Homo sapiens: one gene and its partners. The protein of the gene in region 1 interacts with the protein of each later gene in a pairwise test. Each region holds a gene or a part of one and is shown in the gene's direction. Other genes may lie near its edges.

Region 1 (8,919 bases):
GCCTGGTGCATGGCATCGGGCCTGCAGAGAGGACTCTCGGGATAGAGGCTTGTCTGCCCTGGACTTCCCCGCCCCCACGGTGGGCTCCTGGATGGGCTGGACTGGGTCGGGGGGCAGCCAGCCTGAATGTGGGGCCTTCCCCTGGAGGGGCTTCTCTCTGCCCCTCGGTCCCTGCTCCCTCTCAGGCCCCTTGGTGTCAGGAGGCTGCAGTGGCAGAGCCCAGCTCGGGAAGGTCAGAGGGCCCCGTGCTCAGCAGACAGGGCAGACATGTTCATTAGCCATCCTGTTGCTTCCAAAGTGCAAACTCAGTATCAGAACAGATCTCTAGTTTGGGGACGACTAAGCAGAGAAGGATTCAACAGAAAGTGGAGCCTGGTGCTTGCTATGCTGCGGGGGAGGACGGAGAGGACTTGGGGAGTCTGTGTCTGAAGCGGACACAGTTCTGGGTTCTAAGTCTGGTGTCAGGGGGTCTGCCCTCCTTGCCTTCCCCAACAATGCACCATCCAGTGGTTTATTCTTCCTGGGGGTTCGGCCCCCATGGGAACAGCCCACAGAGCAAGGCAGCAAACCTGAGACCAGAGACCACAGGGCCAGGGCAGCTGAGAAGTCCACCTGGCGGCACAGCAGGTTTGGGGTGTTGGGGCCACAGGCATGGAGGCAGATGAGGTGGGAGGAGGCTGTTGTCTGTTCACATCTGGGCCTAGGAAAGCTGATGGGGCCAGCAAGGGTTTGCAAGGGCTCAAGAAGGCAGCCGAGAGCCACTTCCTACCACCTTTGAAAGCACCTGTTTCCCTCGCTGTCCAGCCATTGCCGCCAGGGAGTCCTCCTGGGCGCGGACCGCCCCGAGTAAGGACAGGCCTGGCTTGCTGCGGGCCGGTGTGGCTGGCCGGGCCCTGCTCGTCGGTGCAGCAGCTGATCCATTCGAGAGGCACGTCCTTCCATCCTGGCCCGGCTCTCGGAGCTGAATCGCACCCGCCCAGCAGCTTCCATGCCAATTACACAGAGTGTGGGTGGGAGGCTCATTAACCCCCAGAAGTGGAACTGGTCCAGGGAGTGGTGAGGATGGACAGGGGCCCTCCAGCCGACGATGGGGGGTTAAGCGTGCCAGGTCAGGGGTTGGGGAGCTGGCTCAGCACCATCCCTGTGGTCTCCACTGCAGCTCTATTTGCATAATTTTGAAGTTGATTGGCCTAAAGGCAACTTCGCTTAATCACAGCTGACAAGTCTCTGGTTGAAACAGCAGCTGCTGCCAATTAGCCGCGTTGGTGCTTTGGTTTGTTATAACTCTCTAGGCAGCAACCCCCAGCTCCCCCTCCTGCCCGCCCCATAATCTGCTTCAGAAGGAAGTGGCAGGGCCAGGTAGCTGCCCAGAGAACCTGCCACATGCTCCAGCCCAGGTCTTCTCAGACTTGCAGGTGCTGGGGAATGGGTTAGCGCGCAGCCTCTGATTCAGCCGGAAGGGTGGCGCGAGAGCCTGCATTTCCAACAGCTCCCGGGAGATGCCAGGGTTGCTGGTTTGTGGGCTGTGCTTGGGGTAGCAATGATCTCACCCAGAAGTTTGCAAACTGGGGCTGCCTGTTTGTGTGAATAAAGTTTTATTGGAACACACCATCACTCATTCATGTAGGATTCTCTACAGCTCTTTTTTGTCTATAACTGCAGAGTGGACAAAGACTGGGTGGCTTGCAAAGCTGGCCCAGCAGCTCTTCCTTGAGTGGGCATCAGAACACCCTGGAAAGCTGGGAGAGATGCAAATCCTTTGCCCCCCCACCCCCCACCCTGGTTCTGATCCAACAGGTCTGTGCAGCCCTGGTGCAGCCACTTCCGGGGATCTCTCTGTTCATCCTGGCCTACCCTGGGTACCATTCCCATTAGATAGCTGGGGAAACTGAGGCTCAGAGTGGTCACTCACTTGTCCGAGGTCCCAAGCTAGTAAGATCTGGCCGATTCCCACCACATCCTGCATCCTTGACCCAGGTCCCTCTCCCCAGGGTGCACCACGTCCCAACTGGGTTCCCTGGCTTGGTCTGCTCCAAATCTGGATTCCACGTGGGGGCCTGCTATTTGTAACCTTGGGCAAGTCACAGAATGACATGTCCTGTTGCAGGAGCATGATGTGTGGGAGACCAGGTCTGTCACGGGCACTGCAGAGAGCACTTGGCCCCTGGGGGGTTATCATTGCCCTGCTCCACATCGATATGGGCGGTTTACACTGTGCAATGCCTCTCCCCTCCCTGCCCCGGACTGTGAATCCTTTGAGGGCCAGGATGGAGACCCATCCTGCCATTGCGGAATCACCTGAGGCCGGGGAACTGCTGCCTGTGAGCCTATGAAGGAGGCAGCAACTCCCCAGCAGTGGCTCAGGCAGGGCCCTGCGTGTTCTTCATCTCAGTCATCCTCCCCTTGACCTGGAGGGGCCAGGATGGAGGCATGGCACCATCCACAAAGGAAGAAACCAAGCCTCCTCGAGGCAGGTGACCCGCCAGGCAGGTAACAACAGCGTAAGAAGCAGCATTGGGATTCTGTGGCCCAGGTGACATGGGGCCACCAGCTCAGTTCCAAACATGGAAATATAGGAGGATGTTATATGGCCTGGTGTCCTCAGTTTATAGATGGGGAAACTGAGGCACAGAGAGTTTATAACTGGGAGGGTCTCAAAGGGACGAGGTGTATGTGGGCTCAGTAGGAGGAGGCTGGGAATTCACACCGATTCCCTACTGGAATTGGACAGTTCCGGCACCACACCCAGCAGCCTGGGACTGTGAACCGGAAAAAAACGCTCCTTTCTCAGGGACCCCCAGCCAGGCCAAAGCAGCTTCTGCAGTCCCCACCCAGGCCCCTGTGTGGGTCTCAGCTGCCCAGAGGGGTGGGCCTGTGTGCAATGGATGGGGGCTGGGGGGTACTGTAATCATTATTTTTCTTTACATATATTTTGAACCTTGATTTTCTATTCTATTTTCCAGACTCCAGGCCATGGAGTCAGGCCCATGTCTCTGCCTGCTTCCTGGTATTCGCCCTCGGCAGTCCTTGCCAAGACTTCTTTATTTACTTGTTTGTTTGTTAATAATATAAGAAACATCCTTGACCCATCCCTCAGCCTGAGAGCAGGAACGTCAGCCTGTGCGCTCCCAAGCAGGGCCCACTTCACCCCACGTCCCGCTGTATGCCTTGCTATAGCCAGATGCACTCTCAAAAAGAACATTTTATTTACAGTTCTTTTTAGCCTTCTAGAAAGCGTACTGTGCTGAACTTCATCTTTGGAGACTTTACTTTCTCTCTAGCCTCATAGCGCTGAGATGCCCCGTAATGTTCTGTGCGGCTGCAGTGCATTTGGGTAGCTGAAGAGTGTTCCGGTGTTTGGCCATAACACCATGCATTTTCCTATTCATCCACTGGGCCGTCTCCAGGGCTGTCTCCAGGTTTTTCCATAGCGCCGCTGTGAGCTTTCTAGAGCCTGGTCCCCTCGGCCGAGAGGGGATGTTGGTGCTTTTCCTCCCCCACAGTTGCTGAGGCAAAGACCCACTGTGCAAGAGGATGTGGTCACAGTGGCCTCCCTGAGGTGGGGTCACCTTCCCTCCAGGCAGCCCTCACCCCGGTCTGCCAGGCAGGTTGGTCTTTGTTGTGCTTCCAACCTCTGTCAAAGGTGAACTTTTAAAATTCCTGCCTCGTAGGGTGGATCGCAAGGAGTAAATGTCATTGGCGGACCCATACTTTTCTATGTCATAGGTGTTCCAGATCTGGTGCACAGGAGGTCTGCTTTGAACTATAACAAAATCCACAGGGCAGTCCAGGCTCAGAGAGACAGAGAAACATGCCCAGGATCACACAGCTGAGAAGCGGCAAGGGACTTGAACCCGTGTTCAAACCCCAAGCTCAGAGCCCTTTTGTTTCTCTGCTGCTATGCTGAGCCCCAGACAAGAGGCAGGAGGAACTTTGTGTGCCTTGTTCCCTCTGCCAGGAACACTCCCCCACCCCCACCCCCGCCCCACCGCCCGACTCATCCTTCAGGTGTCCACACCAGACCCCCTGGTCTGAGTCCCCAGCCAGGCGACCCAGGACGAGTTACTGAAACTCTGTACCTCAGTTTCCGCATCTGTAAATTGGGGATAATCACAGCCCCTCCTAATCATGAAGATTAAATAAATACCACCCCCACTCCCGGCCCCTACCCCGTCAGGCTGCATCAGGCACTCTGGGCGCCCATAGCCCCCTGGTTTCCCATCGTGGCACCCATCGCTCTGGGCTGCCATTGTTGGGACCGTGGTTAGATGAGGGGCACCCAGACCAGTCTGAACTCGCTCTCTGTCCACCGAAAGGAATGGAAAAAGGAGGTTTATTTCTGGCCTGGCTCAGGATGGGCAGGCTTCCAGGGATGGGTGGGAGGCAGAGGAGGGCTGGCCTCCTTTATGGCTGCGTTTAAATGCCACCCAGAAGCCAGCCAAGGGCGCCGCCAAGGTACCACGATGCACGAAGGCCCAGGGGTGGGAGACGGCCATGGGCTGGGGGGGTGCCTGGCACCCAGGAAGTGTGGCTGCAGAGGCCAGCCAGGCCCCTGGGCTGTGTCCAGACAGTCATGGAAGCCACTGATGTGTTTCGAACAGTGGCAGGTGTGGGCATCCCCCGCCCTGTTCCTGCCCCATCCCCACCCCATTCCTACTGGCAGGGAGGACCCTCTGCTGCTGGGTGGGGACAGGCCAGGGGTAGGGGGGCAACAGCAGGAAGATCAGCCCAGCTTGGAGTCAGGCAGGTGCCACACACCCTCTGTGGGCTCTCGGGTCCCAGCTACCCTTCCTCCCCGGGCTGGTGTGGGGACCGTTTGTTTTACCCACACCCCTCCCCGGGCCATGCTGGCCAGAGGGGCTTGTGCAGTGGTGCCACTGACCTCCATTGCCCAACAGAGACTGAGGGCCACGGGAGGGAACCCACATGTATTGTGCCAAGCATCTGCTGAGGTGCGGACCTGGAGCCCGGTGCCCTGGGTCTAAGCCCCTGCTGCTTCTAGCTGTGGGATCTCACAGGGAGTGTCTCTAGTTTGCTCACCTGTAAAATGGGGCTCTTGCTGGTGCTCTGAGGATGCACAAGGCTGTAAGACCAGAGGCTGGAGTGCGTGGGGACTGCGGGAGCAGCCGCTGCCATCCTGGGCCTGGGAGGTGGCGGCCCTAGGCCCAGGCGGGAGCTGGACTCCTGCAGGGCTGACTCAGCGCCCTAGCCCCACTCCCCGCCCTGAGGAGCACACTGAATTCTTGTCAGCACACAGAGGCCAGCCTGCGCTGGAAAACACTCTTTTGCCTATACAAGGCTCGACCAAGTTGCTCTCCTTTTATTGGGGTTTAAGGTTGGTGGCAACCAGGAGCCGGGGAAGAGGCCAGCAGCTGCAGGGAGACCGCAGCCAGCGGAGGGGGCTTCTGATCCCTCAGTCACAGGGCTCGGCAGGTAAGGAGCAGCCTGTGGAGGTTTCCAGGTCCTCACTGTGCAGGGGCACCTCTGTTCCTTCACGCTGACCCTGGGGTCCCTGCCCTGGCTAAGCACTGGGTCTAAGGGAGAAGCCAGGCAAGGCTGCTAAGTGACTCCTAGTCACAGAAGAATGGGAGGGGCCGGGGTGACGGCTATGCCAGTGGGGCAAGATGGGGAGCAGGCTCTGATCTAGAGGGGTGGGAGCCCTGTGGGGGTGCACAGATGCTGGTGCTACTACCTACCTGCTGTGTGACCTTGAGCAAGTTGCTGACCGTCTCTGTGCCTCAGTGTCCTTGTGTCAAGAGCCTTGCATAGAGAGGGGTTGGAGAGAAGGCCAAAGGCTCGGGGGAGGGTCCGGCATGGCCTAGGGAGTGCTCTCAGGATGCCCTAGTCATGGCCTGGAGGGCATTTGGTTGGCTTCACGGGGGTGAGGTGGGTCTGTTCGACCCACTTCAGAGTCTGCAGTCCCAGTCCAGCATCACACCGGTACGAAATAAGTGAATAGATGAATGAATGAATGAATGAACGAACAAATGAATGCATTGGCCCCTCCGAATACGCCTTCAAGGCAGGTTTGTTGTCCCCATTTACAGATTGGGAAACTGAGGCTTAGGGCTTTGGCTTCTCTTCACTCCAGTGAGGAAGGGGTTCTGGGGACCAGGGAGGCTGAGGGAGCTGAAGAGAAACCCAGAGCCACCCCCACCCCGAGGCGAGCGCCATGCCTGTCTTTCCTCTTCCTGCCCTGACACTTTAAGTGATTCATTCTTCATGTGATATTTTTGTGTTTCTCCAGTGGGAAAAAAATGCCTCTGGGATTTCCAGGGGTTGTTTTATCTCCATGGTGCAACCAAATAACTCAGGAGGACAGAGAGAAACAAAGGGTTGTTGAGCTGAAGAAGGCCCATGATTGTCTCGGCCAAGCTCTCCCTTTAATAGGGGAGGAAACTGAGTCTGGCCTGAGCCCCTCGCCCTGTGACCCAGTGTGGCCCCCTGGAGGACAGTGGGGCATCTAGGGCCTTCAGCAGGGTTGGGGTTTCCAGCTAAGCCCCTTTCAGCTGTGTGTTCTCGCTCAAGTCCCCCTTTCCCCAGGCCTCAGCTTCCTCATCTGTAAAATGGGATCACAGTGGTGCCTACTTCCAACATTCGAGACAGTAGCACATGCAGAGAACTTTGATGGGTGCAGAACTGGCCCAGGCCAGGGGCTCAAAAGGGGGAACCATTGAAACAGCTGAGTTTGTAACTTGGACTCAGAGCCCAGCTGGCTGGGGCATGGTGGATTCAGCAGGGAAAGGTGTCAGTGAGGGACAAGAGCCTTATTAGGGATACACTGGAATGGTTATCCACTGAGGGAGGGATCTGGGGAGATAGGAGAGGTTTCCACGTTGGAGGTCACCTGCGTGCCTTCCCAATTCCAGCACCCAGGCCAGCACCCTTCGTGGCAGTGTGCTTCTCCTCGTGGCCCTGACCCTGAGAGCAGCCCCATGGAGCAAGTGGTATGCCCGCCTGGTAGGGAGACAGTGAGGGCCCAGGGGGTGTGAGCCGGCCCACCTCAGCTCCCCTGGACTTAGGGGGACCTGTCCCACTGGAGCCCTGGAGTTGGGTTTCTAGGCTAAAATAAGGGACTTCCACCCAGGGCTGATGGCCCAAGGTCACTCCCGGTGGTGGCCGTAAAAGTTGAGGCCATGTCTCAGTTGAAGGAGATCTCCTGCCTGGATCTCTGCTGTTCCCATCTGGAAGTTTGCTCTTTGCAATAAAACAAACCAGGCCAACGAGTGCTAATGGAGTTCCTACTCTATGGCCGGCAGACATTTATTCAGCACCTACTGTGTGCAAAGCATGGTGGGGCGATGCAGAGGCACAAAATTTCCCACCCTTGAAGAGCTTGTACTAGGCAGGGAAGCAGTAAACCAACAGGTAAGGCAGAGGGAAATCCGTGCCAACTAAAGGAACAAGCAAAGCACGGAAAGATGAACTGGGGAAATCAGACGTAGACATGGAGTTCAAACACAATTTCATTTGCCAAGGGGCACACAGGACCCTCTCTGGTACCTAAACCATCAGCTTTGGGAACAGTAGAGTAGGCAACATCGGATAAGAACGGTTTATGGATCAGCTGCTAATGTTCTGGGTGCCCTGCTAGCTTCTGGTCCTTTCTATGTTTGGTATACCTGCAAGGTGTGGGGCACGGCTCCCGTTTCACAGATGAGGAAGCTGAAGCCCGTGAAGTAACTTGCCCTAGATCACCCAGCTAGTTAGTGATAAAGCTCTGATCCAAGGCCAAGGAGACTCGCTGCAAAGCCTATGTGGTCGCCCCCAGCACCCTGTCTGGAGTCGAGCAAACCTGGGTTCAGATTGCAAACCTTCCACCCTCCAGCTCTGGGCAATCACTTAGTTTCTCTGAGCTGTGGTTTATTTATCTCAGCAATGGAGATGATCATTGCTTATGTTCATTCAACCAATTAACACATGTTTATAAAGTGCCTACTACGTGTCAGGCCTGTGCTGCCCATAGAGATGAGCAAAAACGAAATGGTCTCAGCAGGGCTGGGTTCGGGGATGTGACCGCTGCAGGGCTAGGCATCAGGTCAGCAGGGCTCAGGTCACATTGGCCGTTACTAGGGTGTGAGGTGCTGGCCCTTCTCACTCACTGTCAGCCGTGGAGCCCGGCACCCCAGCTGCAGGCGAACGGGCTGCTTCTCTGTCCTTCTCCAGCCATACACTCTGGCTGCCTCGGTCCTGGCCAGCACAGCGAGGAAAGATGTCCTAGTTCTCTCCTGCCGCTTCCCCCTGCAAGCATGAAGGGGTCACAAAGACATGCTTTGATCTCACTTCATATGCAGGCGTGGAGCCTCGAGAAGTGTTTATTCCTGGACTTCACGTTTCAGAGTGAGATTTCATAACCTCTAAGTGGATGTCCTGAAAACAAAAGTTCACAAACTCAGGATTAGGTCTGCACTGCCGAGGAAAGGCCCTGGAGACTGGGAAACTTGTGGAGGTTAAACATCCCTGATGATACATATGTGCACACGTGTGTACATGTGTGTGCTGTGTGGAGACAGGCATGCACACAAGTGCTGCCTGCAGGGGTAAACACTCTTATGAGTCGTGGAGACAGGGCACAGGAGCAGACCCCGGGGTTTGAGTCCCCTCTCCGAGCCCCACATTCTCCATCTGTGTAACAGAGAGACTGAGGGTGCAGCATAGGGCTGGGTGGGAAGGGAACGGGTGAGGAATGGGGAGCATTGGGCACCGTGCTCTGCCCTGGGCTCGGGTGATCTGCAGCTGCTAGCCCGTCTCCTCGTCTGTACTTCCTGCCCTTCTGCTGGGCCGCTGCCTACCCGCAGGACTGTTGGTGGGGCTCCAGAGAGCCCTGCCCTGTTGAATTACTAATCCGTGCTAATGCTACCACTGCTAATCATCGTGCCCACATAGAATTACTCATCATTACGTAATCTACTGTCTGTG
Region 2 (4,606 bases), on another chromosome or scaffold:
GGCTGAGGTGGAAGGAGTCCAGCCTGGGCAACATAGGAAGACCCTCTCTCTCTCCTTTTATCCCCCCAGCCAAGAGATAGCATCTCACTCTGTTGCCTAGGTTGGAGAGCAATGGTGTGACCATAGCTCACTGCAGCATCAAACTCCTGCACTCAAGCGATCTTCCCAATGTAGCCTCCTAAGTAAGCTAGGACTACAGGCATGGACCACCTCACCTAGCTAAGTTTTATTTTTGTAGAGACAGGATCTCACTATGTTGCACAGGCTAGTCTCCAACTCCTGGGGTAAAGCAATCCTCATGCCTTGGCCTCCCAAAGTGCTGGGATTACAAGAGTGAGCCGCTGCACCTGGCTCATTATACAAATATTTGCAGGGACTTAGAAAGGGTGTTAAAATTCAGCCGGGCGCAGTGGCTCACGCCTGTAATCCCAGCACTTTGGGAGGCCGAGGCGGGCGGATCATGAGGTCAGGAGATCGAGACCATCCTGGCTAACATGGTGAAACCCTGTCTCTACTAAAAATACAAAAAATTAGCCAGGCGTGGTGGCAGGCACCTGCAGTCCCAGCTACTTGGGAGGCTGAGGCAGGAGAATGGCGTGAACCCAGGAGGCGGAGCTTGCAGTGAGCCGAGATCGTGCCACTGCACTCCAGCCCGGGTGACAGAGCAAGACTCTGCCTCAAAAAAAAAAAAAAAAAAAAAAAGAAAGGGTGTTAAAATTCTAGATCACATATGGACCCGGGAAGGTTTTCTCACCCTCTGTTAGTGACATCGAGTCTCCCACTAGACAAAAATAGGTGGAAAAATCTCTCGAGGGCTCACATTGTTTTGTCATCTTCAGGAAAAACACCACCAGGCCATACCACAGCCTGCCCAGTGAGGCGGTCTTTGCCAACAGCACCGGGATGCTGGTGGTGGCCTTTGGGCTGCTGGTGCTCTACATCCTTCTGGCTTCATCTTGGAAGCGCCCAGAGCCGGGGATCCTGACCGACAGACAGGTATGGGTTCCAGTCCCACATTCCAGGGTGGGACAGGGCCAGGTCTAGAGAAGGATCTCCCACGAAAGGCTGGGGCCTTGACAAGAAGACTTACCCTGTGGCACAGCAGGAAACCAAGTAACTTGAGGGTGGAGTTAGGGTGGCTGATGGGGAGCACTGGTCCCAAACCAGCGCATCCCAGTGAAATGCTGGGACTCCCCAGTCTGTCCATTGGGAGACAGAATTTCCCCCCCAAATCACTGTGGTTCTGTGGGGTGAAGTGTGGCCTTATCTTCTTCCCCAAGGAAGGGCTTGACTGTGACAAGGGTGTGTGATTTCTCCTTTACCAGCCTGGGGGCTAGTCTAGTGGGATGGGTGCCTGGTGACCAGCTGAGTGCTCAGAGCAGGTCTTGATGGGATGTAGGGAGACGGGGTGTGTACCAGGCTCAGGGACTTTGGGGCTTCCCTGAGGGATTTGGTGGCTTGGATGGGGACCACCCTGCAGGCTGGGGGTCTGTCTGAACAGCTTGGGCCTGGTGTGACTCCTGCATCATGTCATTAACTCCTGGGCATCTGCCTCTCTTTCCAGCCCCTGCTGCATGATGGGGAGTGAAGCAGCAGGAAGGGGCTCCCAAGAGCTCCTGGTGGTGCAGCCTGTGCTCCCCTCAGAAGCTCTGCTCTTCCCAGGGCTCCCGGCTGGTTTCAGCAGGCGACTTTCTTCCAATGCTGGGCCCAGACTTCTTGCCTGGGTGCTGGCCTGCCCTCTCCGGCCGCTTGCTGCCTGTCTGCTTTCCTTGGTGGCTTTGCCTGGGTGCTGGGCCTGCCCTCTCCGGCCGCTTGCTGCCTGTCTGCTTTCCTTGGTGGCTTTGCCTGGGTGCTGGGCCTGCCTTCTCTGGCTGCTTGCTGCCTGTCTGCTTTCCTTGGTGGCTTTGGCTTCTGCACTCCTTGGCGTCAGCCTCTCAGGTCCTCCATTCACACGAGGTCCTCCTCGCTCTGGCCGCTCTTGCTGCTCCTGTCTGAAGAAATCAGACTGATTTCCTCTTAAGACTCCTAGGGATGTGGTGAAGAGCTGGGACTCAAGTGCAGTCCACGGTGTGAAACATGAGGGAGGTGAGGTGTCCGTCCACTTCCCCCATAAAGGTGTGCATTTCAGTTAGGCTGCCCCGCCACAGAGCAGGCTTCATCTGCTCTGCCATCCAGCCCCATCTGGATGTGAGGTGGGGTGGAGACATCATGGGGTGATTGCAGAAAGGGGGAGTGGCGGCCCACGCAGCTTCTGCTGAGGAGCTGACCGCTCTGAGCTGTTCTGTTTCGTATTGCTGCTCTGTGTCTGCATGTATTGTGACCGTGCGGCTCCACCTCTTCCAGCTGCTGCTACAGCTGAGGCCTGGATCCCGGCCTTTCCCTGTGACTTACGTGTCTGTCACCGGCAGGCAGCCCTACAAATCCTGGTGACCTGCTCTCCCAAGAACAGAGCCTGTCCCCAGATGTCCCAGTAGCGATGAGTAACAGAGGTGGCTGTGGACTTCCTCTACTTCTCCTTGCTGGATCAGGGCCTTCCTGCCTCCCGCTGGGCAGGTCTGGCCTTGCTCTCTTGGCAGGGCCCCAGCCCCTCTGACCACTCTGCAGCTCACCATGCAGCTGATGCCAAAGTTGTGGTGTCCAGTGTGCAGCAGCCCTGGGAGCCACTGCCACCTTCAGAGGGGTTCCTTGCTGAGACCCACATTGCTTCACCTGGCCCCACCATGGCTGCTTGCCTGGCCCAACCTAGCGTTCTGTGCCATGCTAGAGCTTGAGCTGTTGCTCTTCTTCAGGGGAGGAAATAGGGTGGAGAGCGGGAAGGGTCTTGCTCCTAAGTGTTGCTGCTGTGGCTTTTTTGCCTTCTCCAAAGACGCACTGCCAGGTCCCAAGCTTCAGACTGCTGTGCTTAGTAAGCAAGTGAGAAGCCTGGGGTTTGGAGCCCACCTACTCTCTGGCAGCATCAGCATCCTACTCCTGGCAACATCAGGCCAACGTCCACCCCAGCCTCACATTGCCAGATGTTGGCAGAAGGGCTAATATTGACCGTCTTGACTGGCTGGAGCCTTCAAAGCCACTGGGATGTCCTCCAGGCACCTGGGTCCCATGACCAGCTCCCCATCTCCATAGGGGTAGGCATTTCACTGGTTTATGAAGCTCGAGTTTCATTAAATATGTTAAGAATCAAAGCTGTCTTTGTTCAGGCTGCTATAACAAAAATATAATAGCCTGGGTGGCTTAAACAACAAGTGTTTATTTCTCACAGTTCTGGAGGCTATAGACATCCAAGATGAAGGCGCTGGCAAATGTGGTGTGTGGCAAGGGCCAGCTTCCTCAGAGACCATCTTCTCACCATAACCTCACATGGTGGAAAGGGCGTGAGAGCTCTCTGGGGCTCCACCCTCATAACCCCATCACCTCCCAAAGGCCCCACGTCCTAACACTACCATAGTGGGGGTGAGCCTTTCAACACAGGAATTTGGGGGGGACACAAACATTCAGTCTCTAATAACAGCCCTCTAATGAAATGATGCTGTGGTTAAATGAGTTCTGGGCCAATTTGTAAAAGCCTCAGGACAGGTCTGACCCTCACAGACCTAGGGAGGGGCCAACCGGAAGGCACCAAAGATCCACATGATCCTCTGTCTTCATGGAATGGCATGTGTGGATTCACATGCAGCTCATTTATGTGCGTGTCCTTAATAGCTAATGGCACGTGCTTATCTCACGAGGAAGGAAATTTTTCCTATTTCATAATCTGAGAAAACAAGACTCAAAAAGGGTGACTAGGTTGAGGTCACCCAGCCAGGAAATGACAGAGCTGGGATCCACAGGCCACCGTCTGAGGTCAGCCTCCTTCCCAGCTGCTGGGCGCATACTCCTGTGCACGTGGATGCCTTGTGGTCAGGGACGTATGGTGCAGCCGACAGACAGGACCCTGGGTAGAGAAGCCCAGGCACTCGGGGAGCCTGCAGCCAAATTTGGGCCAAGTAGGTGACGGGGGTTGGGAGGGCAGGAGGCTCTTTCCTACCAGCTAGTGGTAGAGCAGATGACCTGGGAGGGGCTGGGGGCCCAACCCCTGTGATAACCGTAACTCTCAGTGAGTGAGCACTTGGACTGTGCTGGGCTTTATGGCCCATCTTCATCAATTCATTTGAATCCTTTCATGTCCCCATGAGGTGGGTACCATTCTGATTTTACAGATCCCAAAGGGCTAAAAAATAGGCCTTAGCTCCTGTAGCCGGGTTAAAGCAGAATCAGATTTCAGATCATGTGTATGAGTCGACAGCCAGTGCCTTTAACCACTCCCTACCCTACATGTGTGCCAGGCATGTGCTGTTTGTCTCCACATGCATACAGTGCCCCTGCTCACCCTGGTGCCATCAGTGATCGCTCTAGAAAGAGACCTAGGGGCTGGCTTGGCTGCAGTTTCTTTTTTTTTTTTTTTTTTTTTTGAGACAGGGTCTCGCTTTGTTGCCCAGGCTGGAGTATAGTGGCATGCTTATGGCTCACCGCAGCCTCGACCTCCTGGGCCCAAGCCATCCTCCCAACTCAGCCTCCCAAGTTAGGACTATAGGCACACACTACTATGCCTGGCTAATTTTGTATTTTT
Region 3 (8,018 bases), on another chromosome or scaffold:
TAGCTTACATGATCACAAGGTCCCACAATAGGCTGTCTGCAAGCTGAGGAGCAAGGAGAGCCAGTCCAAATCCCAAAACTGAAGAACTTGGAGTCTGATGTTCCAGGGCAGAAAGCATCCAGCACGGGTGAAAGATGTAGGCTGGGAGGCCAGACCCATCCCTCCTTTTCATGTTTTTCTGCCTGCTCTATATTCCCTGGAAGCTGGTTAGATGGTGCCCACTAGATTAAGGGTGGATCTGCCTTCCCCAGCCCACTGACCCAAATGTTAATCTCTTTTGGCAACACTCTCATAGACATACCCAGGATTAATACTTTGTATCCTTCAATCCAATCAAGTTGACACTCAGTATTAACCATCACACCTCCAAATGAGGAAACAGTGTGAACAAAATATTCACCTAAAAGAAGCTGTGATTTGTAAATAAGCAACTGACAGCATATTCGGCCTCTCTGGTAATCAAAGAAAATGCTGACACAAATAACTATGTATGTTTCTTTTCTATGGAATTAACTATGATTTTAAGTTTGCTGTTTAATTCTGGCAAGAGACTCTGAGATAAACACTGGTACTCTTGATTGGGAAGAAAGTAAAGGTCACAGCCAGAACTTATGAATGTATCAAAAGCTTTAAATGCATTTGTAACCTTTGATTGAGTAATTCTGCTTGTCAGAATATACCCTAAGGAAAAAATTATGAAATCCAGATATTTATGTTCATATGGTTATCACAGCACTATTCAACCAGCAAAGAAAATGAAACAACCTAGTAATTAAAATGAGTTAAAGAGCTTTTCTACTTTTACATGAGAAAATGCTCATGACATAATGTTTAGTAGTAAAAGCTCAGCACTTGAAATCACGTATTCAGTAAAATCTCAAGAGTATAAAGCAAATATTCGTAAATGCATAAAAAAGACTAAAGGTAAATAACCTTAATGTGCTGGAGATTGCAAGCAATTCTTAGGGTTTAGGTATCTTTTTGGCTTTTTCTTTTTTATTTTTTCTTTTTGCACAAAGAGCATGTGTTACTGTGATGAGGGGCAAAACCTTTCATTAAAGGCCCAAGCAACATCTACCTACCACCATCTGTAAGGGCTCACCCAGGAGACAGCAACAGCAGCAGGGGACCGCCAACTCCACTCCCAATAAGGAACTAGCACTGAGGATTTGGAAGGCAGTTTCCCATGAGCAGTTTCTTCCCTGAAGAGGAAGAGAAAATTCATCTCCAGGACTGGATCATACCATCTCACATCTTGGAGGGCTCTGCAGCTTGTATCAGCCACAGACAGTCAATGAAGACACAGCTAGAACCGTCCATCCCGGCTGCACTGCAGAGCAAGTTCTTGTCACTGTGCTGAACTTCTGGGTTCTCATCTTTACAATGGACTCTTGGCAATACTCCGTTTAAGAGTATTTATGGGAACTAGACAAGATAAGAACTGGTTTATTATTGCAAGATATAGCTGAGTTTTTTTTTTAACTTCATTAATAAATATCCAACACATGAAGACACACTAATAATACATTTCTTGACTTATGTCAGACTGTTACCATATAATTAAATTTTTCACATAATTATTTTCCCTTCTTAAGAGTCATTTATTTAACATTAGACACTTTCATAGTTAAATTTTCTAAAATATGTCAAATGTTTCCCTGTTAGCTAATTTGCTACACACTAAGACACACTATTTACTTTCTTTTTCAAATGACTTGGGGTCCTTACTATGAACAAAGTATGTGTTAGAGGAGGAAGGGGGCCAATATCTTTAAGTAACTCCAGTGTACTCTCATTGTAATTACCTCTTTAATTATTATCGAATATATTACTCACAACAGCCTAACTTTGCAGATTGCTCCAATTTCCAGGCTGAGAAAAATGAGGCTCAGAGAAAGAAAGTGAAATGCTGAAGGTTACGCAGCTAGTAGGCAGTAGAGTAACTAACCCAGATTGAGTTCCAAAGCCCTGTGGTCTTTAATAGCGCAAGGAACTGTCACATCCTCCAGTGATGGCTGGAGCTGAGATTGCTTTAGTTCTGTAACAAATGCTACTTCGTTCTTGTATCTGACCTCTGCAGTTTGTGGGGCTTTCAATTTTCACTGTTTAGTTCGTTAGTTTATTAATTTTTGGCTTATTTTCTGTAAGGAATTCTCTGCAACATTTTGATGCCTTCAACCTGTCTTACCCTAAGAAATTAAGGAAATCTCTTATGATTACGTCTAAGGCCAGTAGGTTCTAAATGAGTCTGTAAAAGTGACTTCTCTAAGTGTGCTGCAATGACCTAATGACTTGTCCGTTGTTACCTGGCAGAACTTTCTGCTTCTTTCCAACTTTCCAGCTGCATTTCAGATAATTAAAGTTATTTTCTCTCAGGACAGAGGAGCGGGACTACTGTTCCACGTAGACGTATGTGTATGTATTACCAAAAAAAAAAGTTAAACTGTTAAAGTAATCACGGGTGCAGTGGCTCACGCCTGTAATCCCAGCACTTTGGAAGGCCAAGGTGGGTGGATCACCTGAGGTCGGGAGTTCGAGACCAGCCTGACCAACATGGAGAAACCCCGTCTCTACTAAAAATACAAAATTAGCCAGGCGTGGAGGCACATGCTGGTAATCCCAGCTACTCGAGAGGTTGAGGCAGGAGAATTGCTTGAACCCAGGAGGCGGAGGTTGTGGTGAGCCGAGATCACGCCGTTGGACTCCAGCCTGGGCAACAAGAGCAAAAACTCCGTCTCAGAAAAATAAATAAATAAATAAATAAAAATAAATTAATCATTACTCATTGCTGTTTATTAAATGCCTTTTCTGTTCCCACTGTGATTCTACAATCACTGCCTCTGTAAAACCCCGGAATGCAGGTGTTCTTGCCTCCATTTTATAGATGAGGAAATCAAGACTCAGGGCTTCCCCACCAGGCCAAAGGCATTCTGTGAGTAGTTTATTTCAATTCAACATGGCTGTGCTGCACATGGCAGTTGGAGTAAAGATCTATCAGCATCGGGGGTTCTTCATGATCTAACTAAAGTGAATCATGAGTGCTTTCCCACTGCGTCAAGAAGGCCTGGAGTTTGTGCAGCCCGGCTAGAGGTGAGCAAAGCCTCTGTGTTGCAAATCTCCAGGGCGCAGCCTCTCATTGTATTCAATGCAGATGACAGTCCCAAAGGCACCGCCCATACATTGTACAGACAGCTGGCCTGGCTCTCCGGATTGTGCAGGATAGGCCTTAATGGCAGAAGGTAGGGGAGAGGTGGGCGTCACAAAAGTGCTTGGGGAACTATAAAGTAAACAATGAAAAGCAGCACAGGAAGGTTCAGACATCACACAGGAGAAGCACAGGGTGTTCCCCTGGGTGGGGATTTAAAACAAGGGCCTCAAGTTCCCTGCCCTTGTCTCTGGGCAGAAGGGGCAGATAATGCTATGATACATTTTTTGTAGGTGGTGCCATTTGACTGCATTTAACCAACAAAGGTATGTATCGAAATCCACGTGGAGATTTTCATGGCAAAAGTAGAGCGAATTCACAAACTGCACTGTGTCTGGCAGCTTCAGACAAAAGCAATGGGAACAAATCACGACTCTTGTCCAGCAATTCTTCCTGTTTTGGAATGATCTTTGCTCAACAGCCCATCCATGAGTACAGGGCCCCCAAAGGCCAACAAGACAGGGACTCTCTCCAGGGACAAATGCCCCGCAGCTGAGAGAGGCCGCCCAGCTATCCAGCGGCCGCGCAGCCAGCCAAGATTTCAACACAGGTCTGCCCTATTTGGTCACCATCCCCGACAGTGCTGGGCCAGGCCATCATGTCACATTGGGGAGTTTTCCCTGCACTCCAGGGGGAATTCTCAACCACAACCTCTGTATCCGGTAGTGGCAGATGGAAAGAGAAACGGTTAGAAAAGCGTGGTTCTTGCGCAGGAAAGTTGGAGCAAAGAAGAGTTCAGAAGTGGGCGGGTGTGTGTTTAAAAAAAAAAAAGGGGGTGGAAACCCCACCAGCCAAGTCTGCAGAAAAAAAATAAATGAAGTCTGCCTATCTCCGGGCCAGAGCCCCTCCCCTCGGCCCGCGCGGGAGGAGTGTGACCCAGGTGCCGCTTCCTCTCGCCGCCGAGGGTCAGGAGCCCGGGAGCGCGACCCTCCCCCGGCCCGGCCTGGCCCGGCCTGGCCAGTCCCCGCGGTCTCTGCCCGGGCTGACGCCCAGGAATGTGGTCGACGAGAAGCCCCAACAGCACGGCGTGGCCTCTCAGCCTCGGTGAGTACCCGCCGTGGGGAAGGGTCCTGGGGACCCACTGGAGGCCGCGGCCCGCAGCAGCCAGGGGCCGAGCCACGGCCACGGACGCCCTGGTGTCCCGGTCCGTGCCGGGCCTCCAGGCGGAGGAGGCGTCCGCTGGGCTCAGATCCCCGACTCCAGCCCCGGTTCCCCGGCGCCTGGGCTGCGCGGAGTCCCTGTCCCGCGTCCCGGACCCCTACGCGCAGCCTCCACGCGCTCCGAGCTGGAGAAGCCGCCAGCCCGCCCTCCCAGGGCGTGTCGCCCGCTTTCTGTTTCTTTGTGCGGGGCATGTGAAATGTGTGGGGCCAGAATTGTCTCCCTAAAGAACAGTTAGGTGAGAGTTCACATCACAAGTTGCTTCTGTGCTGCTCCCCAGCCAGGGTCCGACCGGCCAGGCTCCGGTGAACTCCAGGCAACTCCAGCCTTGCCCAGGGACTTGCTCGCTCCGCTGGGCGCCGCAAAGGCACACAGATGCGAGGGAATCCTGCGGCCTGGATCCTTTGGGGATTTGTAATTCCTCGCTGCTGGTTTTCTCTTTTAAACCATCACGTTTTCTTGCTGAGAGGAAATCATCTGTGATGAAAGTCTTTGTAGATGCTTGGAAACATTGCTGGGCCTCTCTCTGCCCTCTTCCTCTGCCGTTGGACTTTTGCAATAAAAACTACCATTTGATTTTACCAAAAAACGTAATGTACATCCCTCTTACCCCCACCCTGCCGCGGTCTGATTCTTAGAGTCTGTCAGAGAGGAGATACCCTGAGCCTATCATGTGACAATGATACCTTATTGATATGATAATGATATGGGTATTGGAGACACCAACTCTTTTATAAGTCTTTGAAATCCAGGGGGTTGTGAGGCCTCACCCCTCACCCCGCCTGAGCTTGGAGCTTGGCGTGGAGGAGTGCTGCTTCGGTCTACGTGTGTACACGGCACTCCATGTGCCTGTGGTTGTGCTTGCGTCAGCCTGGGAGTGCGCAGGCATCAGTGGTGCTTGGGAGCGAGGCCCCTCAGTCTGCACTGGGATCATCTGCACTGCCTATAAACAAGGCAGCCTCTCTTAGCTCCAGTTTCCTCATCTGCAAAGTAGGAAAGTAGGAATAATAACAGGAGATAACTCATCCAGCAGCACGAAGTGCGTATAAATGTCCCGGCACGGAGTCTGACACATCCTAAGTGCTGGATCCGTGCTGGGCATGTTTATATAATTGCACATGAGACTGTGGTTCCCGGAGCACGTAACTTGAGCATATGTTTATGTGTGTGTATACGGCAGGTCCTGGGTTAAAGGGACAGGAGCCACTGTCATTATTCCAATTCAGTCACTGAGGAGGTGAGGCTGAGAGGCATTCTCATGTCTGAAGAGGATGGGCTTGCCTGACCCCCGCCCCCGTGCCCAGCCCAGCCCAGCAGCCCAAGCAGTTCTCCAGGACTCAGGTTTCAGACCTTCAACACTTGCCTTGGGAGACAAACAGCGGTGCAGCCCTTGCTTGCAAGCCATTCCACATTAGACTTCGGATTGATTTATGGCAGGATCCCTGCTGTGCGAGAACTGCAGGGGGGGTGGGGGGCGGCTATTTCTTGCTGCTAACTCAGGCAGGATGTGTCTATATCCTGTCTCAGTTTATGTAGCTGCTCATCAGAGCCAGAGGTTAGAGCGGAGAGGACCCACTTCCGCCAGGCCGGCCTGCTCTGCTCAGCTCAGCTGGGCTAGGCCCCAATGCCACAGTTACTGCGCGTGAGTCATGCACAGCAATCCATTGCCTTGCCCTTGGATGGAAGGGGTCAAGGCTCAGTGAGAAGACGGCCAGGTTTGGCAGCTTTATATAGAATTCACCGCCTCTGGCAGAAGCAGAGGATTGCATTAAGTGCCAAATGAAATTCCACCTCAGCCATTGCTCAATTCCTCCAGATGTCACTGGCACTGGGAGTCACATGATGCTGGTGGTCAGCAGCTGGACCCTTCCAAGGGTGCCCGTGGTTGGGCAAGTATTTCTGGGGACTTGCAGAGCTCCCTGGGGAGCAAAGGGTTGTGAAGTACAAGGCATTCTGCGCTTGTGGTGGGAACAAGTGAACCCATCTGCAGTGAGTAGGAAGAGGTCCCCTCAACAGAGGTGAGAGGTTGGGCCAAGTCAAGTCAGTTTGCCTCTTCAGGTGGCAGACCTGTATGTACATCTATGCCTCAAGTGCCTGTCTGAGGCCACAGCCAAAACATCTTCCAGTAACTGAGCATACCCAGTGGGCCAACAAGCACGCTCTAAATACAAAACCAAACAAACAGTAAAGTTAACAGTGAATGAAGAGTTAAAAATAGGAGAAAGACACCTTCTCCCTACCTCAATGGCAATTACTTTATTTATTGAGGATAATCCTTCTAGAAGTAAATTTGCTGATACAAATATTTCTTATTTTACATAATAAAAATGCATTTTATATATTTTACTTCATCTTGTTTTTTTTCCATCAGAATATCTCTTAAAGGTTATACCTTGTTATTTTCTTTAATCAGTTCCTCTGCTGATGGGCATTTAGGCTGTATGCAGACTTCATTTAATTTTTTTAAACCACACACAGCAGTCCTGTGACAATGAGTAAGGAGGATTTTACATGCATGTGTCTGTAAACTGTTAGGATAAATTCTCCCACCTCAGCATTTGATTTCTGGGACAAAGTGTGTATTCATTTAAAATGTTAGTAGATCTTAAGAAACTACCCTCCTAAAGGTCACACCGGTTTCTCATGCTCACAAATAGCCTATGAAAGTCACTATTTCCCTGCGTCCTCACTCACACTGCATTTTTTATCTTGGCCAAACTGAGAGGTAAAACAACAAAACAAACGCTGTCACTTTGGAATGAGCCTCTGTAATTAAGTGAGACTGAGCATGTTTTCTTACTTCCATAAGAGGTTGTATTACTTTTCGGGGAAGTGTCGGTTGATGCTTTTGTCCATTTCCTGTCAGCACCCCACCCCCGTGAGGAAACGTGCCCCAGAAGTGAAAGGACATGTCCTCATCACATGACGAGTGAGGGGCAGAGCAGAGGCCAGAGCAACATCCGTGCTGTGGAGTCAGCCCTGGGTTTGACTGCCCTCCAATGTTCACCAGCTTTGGGAGAGAGAGGAAATACCTCAGCACCTCAGTTTTCCCATCTGTGAGTGGGAATGATAACAGCCACTTCCCCAGAGTCACCCGAAGAGCAACAGCAGAAGGGCCTGGACCTGCTCCCAGTGGCAGAGGCTTGGGAGGTGGCTTTTGTTAGCGAAATTTATTGGAGCAAACCTGGCCTGAGGATGCTGGTAATTTCAGGAGTCACCCTCCAGACAGCTGTTGTTTTTCGCTTTTGATAAAATAACAACAAACTTAGATGCCGAGCCCTGGTAAGGGGCTTTCCTGGGTCTCCCCTGCACACCTGCTATGATAGGCATTTTCTTTTCTTTTTCTTTCTTTTCTTTTTTTTTTTTTTTTTGAGACAGAGTCTCGTGCTCTGTCACTCTGGCTGGAGTGCAGTGGTGTGATCTCAGGTCATTGCACCCTCCACCTCCTCCACCTCCTGCGTTGAAGAGATTCTCTGCCTCAACCTCCCAAGTAGCTAGGACTACCGGCATACGCCACCACACCCAGCTAATTTTTGTATTTTTTGTAGAGACTTTCGGATGAAACACCAGAGGCTCGGGGGAGATAAGCCGCCATAGGGCACCCAGACACTGAGGGCGCAGCCAGGCTGTAGTTACAAACTGCCAGACCCCACAG

What was found.
Region 2: the proteins of SHISAL1 (region 1) and CYB561A3 interact in binary tests that used the Homo sapiens proteins (3 or more experiments, as listed by UniProt).
Region 3: the proteins of SHISAL1 (region 1) and GYPC interact in binary tests that used the Homo sapiens proteins (3 or more experiments, as listed by UniProt).

The regions. Positions count from the first base shown.
Region 1 is NC_000022.11:44,309,265-44,318,183, reverse strand, and holds the start of SHISAL1 (protein shisa-like-1 precursor), read left to right. Parts: upstream 1-5,232; 5' UTR 5,233-5,433; intron 5,434-8,919.
Region 2 is NC_000011.10:61,347,381-61,351,986, reverse strand, and holds the end of CYB561A3 (lysosomal membrane ascorbate-dependent ferrireductase CYB561A3), read left to right. Parts: intron 1-839; coding exon 840-996; intron 997-1,564; coding exon 1,565-1,588; 3' UTR 1,589-2,343; coding exon of another isoform or gene 2,344-2,430; 3' UTR 2,431-3,182; downstream 3,183-4,606. Other genes in the region: TKFC (triokinase/FMN cyclase), read right to left, coding at 3,780-3,962. UniProt on the Homo sapiens protein: Transmembrane reductase that uses ascorbate as an electron donor in the cytoplasm and transfers electrons across membranes to reduce iron cations Fe(3+) into Fe(2+) in the lumen of the late endosome and lysosome.
Region 3 is NC_000002.12:126,652,064-126,660,081, forward strand, and holds the start of GYPC (glycophorin-C), read left to right. Parts: upstream 1-4,094; 5' UTR 4,095-4,200; coding exon 4,201-4,249; intron 4,250-8,018. UniProt on the Homo sapiens protein: This protein is a minor sialoglycoprotein in human erythrocyte membranes. The blood group Gerbich antigens and receptors for Plasmodium falciparum merozoites are most likely located within the extracellular domain.